2 linked regions of the Homo sapiens genome follow. The protein of the gene in region 1 interacts with the protein of each later gene in a pairwise test. Each region holds a gene or a part of one and is shown in the gene's direction. Other genes may lie near its edges.

Evidence for each region.
Region 2: the proteins of EHD3 (region 1) and RAB11FIP2 interact in a two-hybrid assay, tested with the Homo sapiens proteins (one study listed by BioGRID).

Annotation. Positions count from the first base shown.
Region 1 is NC_000002.12:31,257,904-31,261,727, forward strand, and holds part of EHD3 (EH domain-containing protein 3), read left to right. Parts: intron 1-2,606; coding exon 2,607-3,019; intron 3,020-3,645; coding exon 3,646-3,810; intron 3,811-3,824. UniProt on the Homo sapiens protein: ATP- and membrane-binding protein that controls membrane reorganization/tubulation upon ATP hydrolysis. In vitro causes tubulation of endocytic membranes. Binding to phosphatidic acid induces its membrane tubulation activity.
Region 2 is NC_000010.11:118,036,909-118,040,732, reverse strand, and holds part of RAB11FIP2 (rab11 family-interacting protein 2), read left to right. Parts: intron 1-167; coding exon 168-610; intron 611-1,292; coding exon 1,293-1,761; intron 1,762-3,824. UniProt on the Homo sapiens protein: A Rab11 effector binding preferentially phosphatidylinositol 3,4,5-trisphosphate (PtdInsP3) and phosphatidic acid (PA) and acting in the regulation of the transport of vesicles from the endosomal recycling compartment (ERC) to the plasma membrane.

The DNA of each region.
Region 1 (3,824 bases):
CATCAGGAACTATCCTCAGGATGGCACCTGGAGATACTGGGCCAGCTCTGCCCCTTCCTGAGCCTCAGTTTCCCTATCTGTAAATCAGGAAGTTGGACCATTGATGGCTAAGCTCCTCGTAGCCTCATAGGTCTACGCCACAGGAGCAGGGGGAGAAGGCTCAGGTGTTAGTTGAGCTGTATATTCATTGAGCAGCTGACAGATCTTGGAGAAAATCACATGGCAATGGGAATGCTTGGAAGCACTTCATTTACCAAAGACAGAGGAGCTGAAAATGGAGTAGTACTGGCATCCGGGTAACCAAAGGAGGGTTTGACCTTCCTTTGTTTGTTAGAATTCTCTTACAGCCACCAGGGAAACATTACAGGGGTCCTCCAGGAAGCTTTAGGGCAGCAAGTTTTCCCGACCGTCTGATCCCATCCCCCTACCCCCTGTGGCAGTGCCTCCACACGTCCTAAATATGTACCCCACTGGGTGTTCACTAGATGCCACAGGGTGGGGGAAAGGCTTTTTAAACCTAGCTCCGTTGGCTCCATTCATCCTCATCCCCCACCCCATCGATGCCTGCTACTTAGTCTGAAATGACAGCCTTTGAAAGTGAAAGCCAACTCGGTGCAGTGGTTCATAGCACTGACTCCAGGGCTACCTTCCTGGACTTGAGTCCCAGCCCATTGCTTACCAGCTGGGTGACCTTAGACAAGTTCCTTTATCTGTTTGTATCTCTGGTTACTCCTCAGAGAAGTGGGGCTGATATTAGTGTCTAATGACCCTACACAGAGTCATCGTGAGGATTAAAGGAATGAATGATTATAAAGTACTTAGGTCAGTGCTGAACACCTTTTGAATGCTATTGTTATTTTTATGGGCCAGTGGTATTCAAAGTGTGGCCCTTGGACCAACAGCATCAGAATCTCCTGGGAGCTTGTTAGAAATGCTCTGCGCCAGACCTACTGAATCAGAAACTTTGGGGATAGAGTCCAACCATCTGGGTTTTAAGAAGCCCTGGGGGGATTCTGATGGAGGCTAAGTCAGGACCCCTGTTAAAGACAGTCAGAGCTTCTTAAGTCTGACTCACTCACAAGGCAGTTGCCTGATGATCTTGCCTGGTCTCTAGCCTCCCTCTGTGAGGCAGGGCAGGCTTTTTCCTAATGATTTGGTTTCCCATTCGATGGTGGCAATGAGCTTTGGGTCCCCAGTGTGTGTCACCTTGGAACCCTTGTGCTATGGGGAGCCAGGATGGTTGGTCACTTTAGTACCCAAGAAAGGGCTCCTACCTTGGTGCCAGAGGTATGCCACGGGGGAGTGGCAGGAGGAGAGGCTGAGAACCCTGCTCAGACTCAGAATGGGAAAGCCTAACACCTCCATCTTCATGCGACTGCTGCTGCTCATGGGCTGTGTGCCCTTCGACAAATCACTTGACTTCTCTGAGCCCCACTTCCTTATCTCTTGTCTTCCTATTTTATGTAAGAGGAGCCTGAGACACAGAGGTAAGACCTACTGGGGCTCTGGGTGTCAGTGAATGTATAGACTATTGGTCCACCCTCCTACTTCAGCTCCTACTGGATCCACAGCTACTTGGGATTGAGCAGAACAACTTCTCTGGGGCTCCTGTAACCAGTCTGACCTAAAGCAGCTTAGTGCTAGATAACCAAGATGCGGGTGGCCAGAGTTCCAGTCACATCCTAAGGAAGAAACCCCTTGTGGTTTCAAGAGTTGGGAATTTTGTGCTGCAGCTGATTACAAAGGAAAGAGCCTGAGTGAGAACAAGATGTTTTTATAACAAGAATTGCAGATTTCTTCCAGACCAGTGACAGGCATGGTCTGAACCATCATCAGTATCTACTTTTTAGTGTTTCATTGTTTTCAGACCTTAGAAAGAATTTCTGGGTCTTTGTGTCAGATTAGGTGTCCAGACTTTCTTTTCCAGCGGGCTGCTAAATACAGTAAGCACGGATAGGGGAGCTGGTATGGAAATAATGACGTTAATAAGAGTTACTAGGCCAGGCGCAGTGGCTGGCTGGGGGCGGTGGCTCACACCTATAATCCCAGCACTTTGGGAGGCCAAGGCAGGCGCATCACCTGAGGTCAGGAGTTCAAGACTCAGCCTGGCTAACATGGTTAAACCTGTCTCTACTAAAAACACAAAAATTAGACGGGCATGGTGGCGCATGCCTGTAATCCCAGCTACTCGGGAGGCTGAGGCAGGAAAATCACTTGACCCCAGGAGGCAGAGGTTGCAGTGAGCAGAGGCAGTGCCACTACACTCCAGCCTGGGTGAGAGAGCAAGACTCCGTCTCAAAAAAAAAAGTAACTAGCATTTACTGAGCACCTACTAAGTGCCGGATTCTAAGAGTATTTAATCTTCATAGTTCTATTAACTAGGTATTCATATTATTTTAGTATTTAACAGTATTTTTAGACGAAAAAAATTCTATGAGACATTGAGTAATTTGCTGGAGTCCAAACAGTTAAAATGTGGAGGAGCCAGGATTTAAACTTAGATCTGACTCCCAAGACTGTGTTATTTCTACCACACCCGACTGCTTCTCCAAACCCCTACCCTATACCCCAAAGGCCCCAGCCCCTGATTGTCCCTCTGCCGGCAGGGTATGACTTTGCAGCTGTCCTTGAGTGGTTTGCCGAGCGGGTTGACCGCATCATTCTGCTCTTCGATGCCCACAAACTGGACATCTCTGATGAGTTCTCAGAAGTCATCAAAGCCCTCAAGAACCACGAGGACAAGATGCGAGTGGTGCTGAACAAAGCTGACCAGATCGAGACGCAGCAGCTGATGCGGGTGTACGGGGCCCTCATGTGGTCCTTGGGGAAGATCGTGAACACCCCAGAGGTGATCCGGGTCTACATCGGCTCCTTCTGGTCCCACCCCCTCCTCATCCCTGACAACCGGAAGCTCTTTGAGGCTGAGGAACAGGACCTATTCAGGGACATCCAGAGTCTGCCCCGAAATGCTGCCCTGCGCAAGCTCAACGACCTCATCAAAAGGGCCAGGCTGGCCAAGGTGAGGCAGCCCCCTGGGAGGTGGGCAGCTTGGGCAGGGGCCCAGAGTTTGGGGTCAGCTGCACGAGCTGAGGGTTGCTGCCTCCAACAGCCAGTGCATCATGTGTGTGACACCAAGGGGCAGGACAGTGCGGGAGCCATGGTTACAAGCTCTCAGGTCAGATGGCCAGATTGGAACTGACTCCATTGTTTACTGTCTGTGGGATTCCCAGCCTTGGCAAGGCCTTTAGTCTCTCTGTGCCTCTGTTTGCATCTGTAAAATGAAGGGGTTGTTGGAGGATAAAGTGAAATAAAGAGTCTCAAAGCCCTCATCACAGTGTCTGGCACCTTCAGAGATGCTCAGCAACTGTCAGCTGCTGGTATTGCCTTCAGCAGCAGCAACATGACCACCTCACCCTGCCTTGACCATAGCTCCCCACAACCTCACCTTGCCCACATAACATAGAAAAACAGCCCAGCCCTGCAAGCAACATGGAGCCATGAGGGTAGAGGTAGAAATTATTTCAAAAGTAGGAGCAGGAGGAGGCGGGAGGGATGTAGGGGAAGGAATGATGCAAGAGCCATCCTAGAAGGAAGGGACCGTCCAGGGTCTTGATGTGAAGGCTTCTCTCTGGCCCTGTTTGTCAGGTCCACGCCTACATCATCAGCTCTCTGAAGAAGGAGATGCCCTCGGTGTTCGGGAAGGACAACAAGAAGAAGGAGCTGGTCAACAACCTGGCCGAGATCTATGGCCGGATCGAGCGGGAGCACCAGATCTCACCTGGGGACTTCCCCAATCTGAAGAGGATGCAGGTAGCGAGGGCTGG
Region 2 (3,824 bases), on another chromosome or scaffold:
CTAAATAATAAGTAAAGCCCGAAATACTGTGGCTGACAGATTCTTATTCAGAGCTTAGGTTGCCTTGATGTATAGTTACTTTACCTAAAAGGCTATTTGTATGTAACAGAACTCAGTATCCTCTCTCTATTATGTGTTACAGCCAATTTTTTTTTCTTCTCTTTAAGGTGGTTTAGATTAGAATCCAAACAAGGAAAACGAATCAAAAACAGGGGTGAGATAAAGGTCAATATTCAGTTTATGAGGAACAATATGACCGCAAGTATGTTTGACTTATCAATGAAGGACAAAACCAGATCTCCTTTTGCAAAGTTAAAAGATAAGATGAAGGGTAGAAAAAATGATGGAACATTTTCTGATACGTCTTCTGCAATCATTCCAAGTACTCACATGCCCGATGCCAATAGTGAATTTTCAAGTGGTGAAATACAGATGAAATCCAAACCAAAAAAGCCTTTTCTCTTGGGTCCTCAGCGACTCTCGTCAGCGCATTCAATGTCTGATTTATCTGGGTCCCATATGTCTTCTGAGAAACTGAAGGCTGGCACCATAGGTCAAACACATCTTCTCGGACACCAGTTAGATTCCTTTGGAACAGTTCCAGAAAGTGGTAAGTGTCACATTCTTGTGTACTCATTGGTCTGAACTACCCTTTTAGTTTTTAAAGTTTAATTTCTAAATTTAGTAAATCAAAATAGCAGTTGCTTTGTAGTATTTTCCAAATTTTGTCATTCATCAAATATTGAGTACCTACTATACCTCAAATTGGTAAGTTCCTTGAAGGCAGAGCTTGTCTGCATTTGTATTTATATTATTAGATGATAATAAAATGAGTGCCAGTTTCCTTTTATGGCTTGGCTGCCTGTTTTACTGCTGTTTCTGCTATCTCAAAACCCTGAGCATAAATGAATGTTCCATTTCATCATAAAGTCCTTAGAAGAAAACTTTTATGTTCAGAAGTAAGAAAGTAAATTTAATGCTAATGAAAAAGTCTCTGAGAATTTTTAACATTATCATGCCAACCAGAACCTCTAGTTTTGACATCATAGTTTATATGATTGTGAGCTGAATACATTACTAATGGTCTAGCAATATGCTAGTTGTTATCAGCCTCGATGCTTCAGACTGCTACACCTTAGCATTTTAAGATTGTTTCCTTGATTTTTTGAAGGTTAATACATTTAAGTGGCTAATTGCTCTCATTCTAAAAGCAGCAGAATGCACACAGACTGTGTCAAATAGTGTGATGTAATGTGTCACTGATTATGTACTAACTACAAAATTGTTTGTAGGAAGTCTCAAATCTCCACACAGAAGAACATTAAGCTTTGATACTTCTAAAATGAACCAACCTGACAGCATTGTGGATGAAGGTGAATTGTGTTTCGGAAGACAAAATGACCCATTTACAAATGTGACTGCTTCATTACCCCAAAAATTTGCAACACTGCCAAGGAAGAAAAATCCATTTGAAGAAAGCAGCGAAACATGGGACAGCAGCATGAATTTATTTTCAAAACCAATTGAAATAAGAAAAGAAAATAAAAGAGAGAAAAGGGAGAAAGTTAGCCTGTTTGAAAGAGTGACTGGAAAAAAAGATAGCAGAAGATCTGATAAACTTAACAATGGGGGATCTGATAGCCCTTGTGACTTGAAATCACCTAATGCATTTAGTGAAAATCGCCAGGACTATTTTGATTATGAGTCAACCAATCCATTTACAGCAAAATTCAGGGCTTCAAATATAATGCCATCTTCAAGGTAAGCTTAATATGGGGGAAGTTCTACTATTTGGGAAAATCTTGTACTTGAAGGTATCAAATATTTCTTTTAAATGCTAGAATATTTTCAAGTCATTTTATTTTATTTGAAAAACATTTTTATTTGTATAATTAAATTATAGAGCCAGGCAATGTTGCATATATTTTTGGAACTGAACTTTTTTATCTTAAGAAGATAAAAGACTCTTATTCTCTATCCTGGTCTACTTCCACTTATGTGAGCCAGAAATTCACCAAAACTTAGAAAACAACATGGCTTGTGATGAGACATGGCGAGAGTGAATTGCCAGTGGGTGTTAGTTCAAGCCAGAAATTTAGGTGATAATGTTTCTAGGGATTCGTTCATGGGCTACCTGGAAAGGACCAACAGCAGCCCATGTGCTATTCTTTAAAAAACGCCAGCTTCAGTATTAATGGCTTTCCTAATAGATGTTAATTATCCTTATTAAATGGCTATTTAGAAGTGGTTTTTATTTGAGAATGCTTGTTATTGGAATTCAGTAACCCTCATGGGTTCTGTAGGTATACCCAAGGGATCTATATGATGATTTATAGTCAGAAATAATCACTCATGAGAAAGATTGGATTTTCCAACTTTGAGTTTTCAGTTATATATATAATGGTGCTTTTCTTATTCCTTAGTATATCTAAATTATATCTATATATCTAAATTTAAATCTATATCTATATAAATTTATATCTACATATATAGATATAAGTGTAGATATGCTAAGGAATAAATTTAAATATGGTTATGGATTTTACAGAAGTAAACGATGAAATAGCTGATTAAGGAAACCTCAAGCAAAGAAAAGATAAATTTATTCCCATCTTAAGTATAGTTGGCCCCCCATATTTGCAGGTTCTGCATTTTTGGATTCAATCAACCATGGAGTGAAAATATTTAAAAAAATAAATAAGAAATAACAATATAGTAATGAAAAAATAATGCAGATTTAAAAAACAGTACAGTGTAACAACTGTTTACATTGGTTTACATTGTATTAGGTATTATAAGTAATCTAGAGATAATTTAAAATATATGGGAGGTTGCGTATATGTGCAAATACTGTACCATTTTGTATAGGGGACTTGAATATCCCTGGATTTTGGTATCCTTGGAGTCCTGGAACCAATCTCTCTCAGATACTGAGAGATGACTGTAATTATCTTGGAAGAGCATGCTAGAGTGTTTACCACGTAATAGAAGATTTTCTTCAAGACAATATTATAGAGTGTACAGACCTGAATGGGAATACTGGCTTAGAAGTGCTATGACCTCCATAAACCTCAGTATCTCCATCTTTGAAACAAGGAAAATAATCCCACTTGATAGGATTCGGTGAGGATAAATGAAAGTACATAATACAAAGCCAGGCCCCAAATAGGGAATCCATAAATGGTGACTACAATTATGTTTGATGTATCGTCATGTTATATTTTACTAAAAAACAGTGCTTTGTTTTGTCCCACTAGAAACAGCAAATAGAGTATTAACAATCAATCACTTTTAGGCTGTGCCCTCTCACCTCTCTTATGTATCTTCCATGATATTTTAAAAATTTGCATTTAAATTTTCAAAGTGAAGTGTACTTTTTTTGTTTTCTTTTACCTATAAATGGATATTTGCCATGGTTTAAAAGAGTATTCTGTTCTGTTTATAAACCATACTCCAGAAGAATAACATTTTTATCATATGGTATCAATATTTTATTGAAGAGTTTATAGTTTTGATATGCCATTCAAAAATATTTTGGTATTTTACATACTGTACTTCACATATTACATTAAATCTTATATGGGTAAATAGAAATATATTTGCTTCTTTCCCTCTTTACTAAACTTTTTTTTACAGAAGGTTGTTGGAAACAACTGTCTGAGGTAACTTGGAGATGGGGCAATTTAGCTAATTTTAGAGTCAGAAGAAAAGCAAGAAAATGGAAAATGATAGGAAAATAATGTTTTTACATTATGGGTGCATATGGAAAAAAAAGCTTATTGAGTATTTGCAAATCTTTAATTGCCCTGTATTTGAGTTGTTTA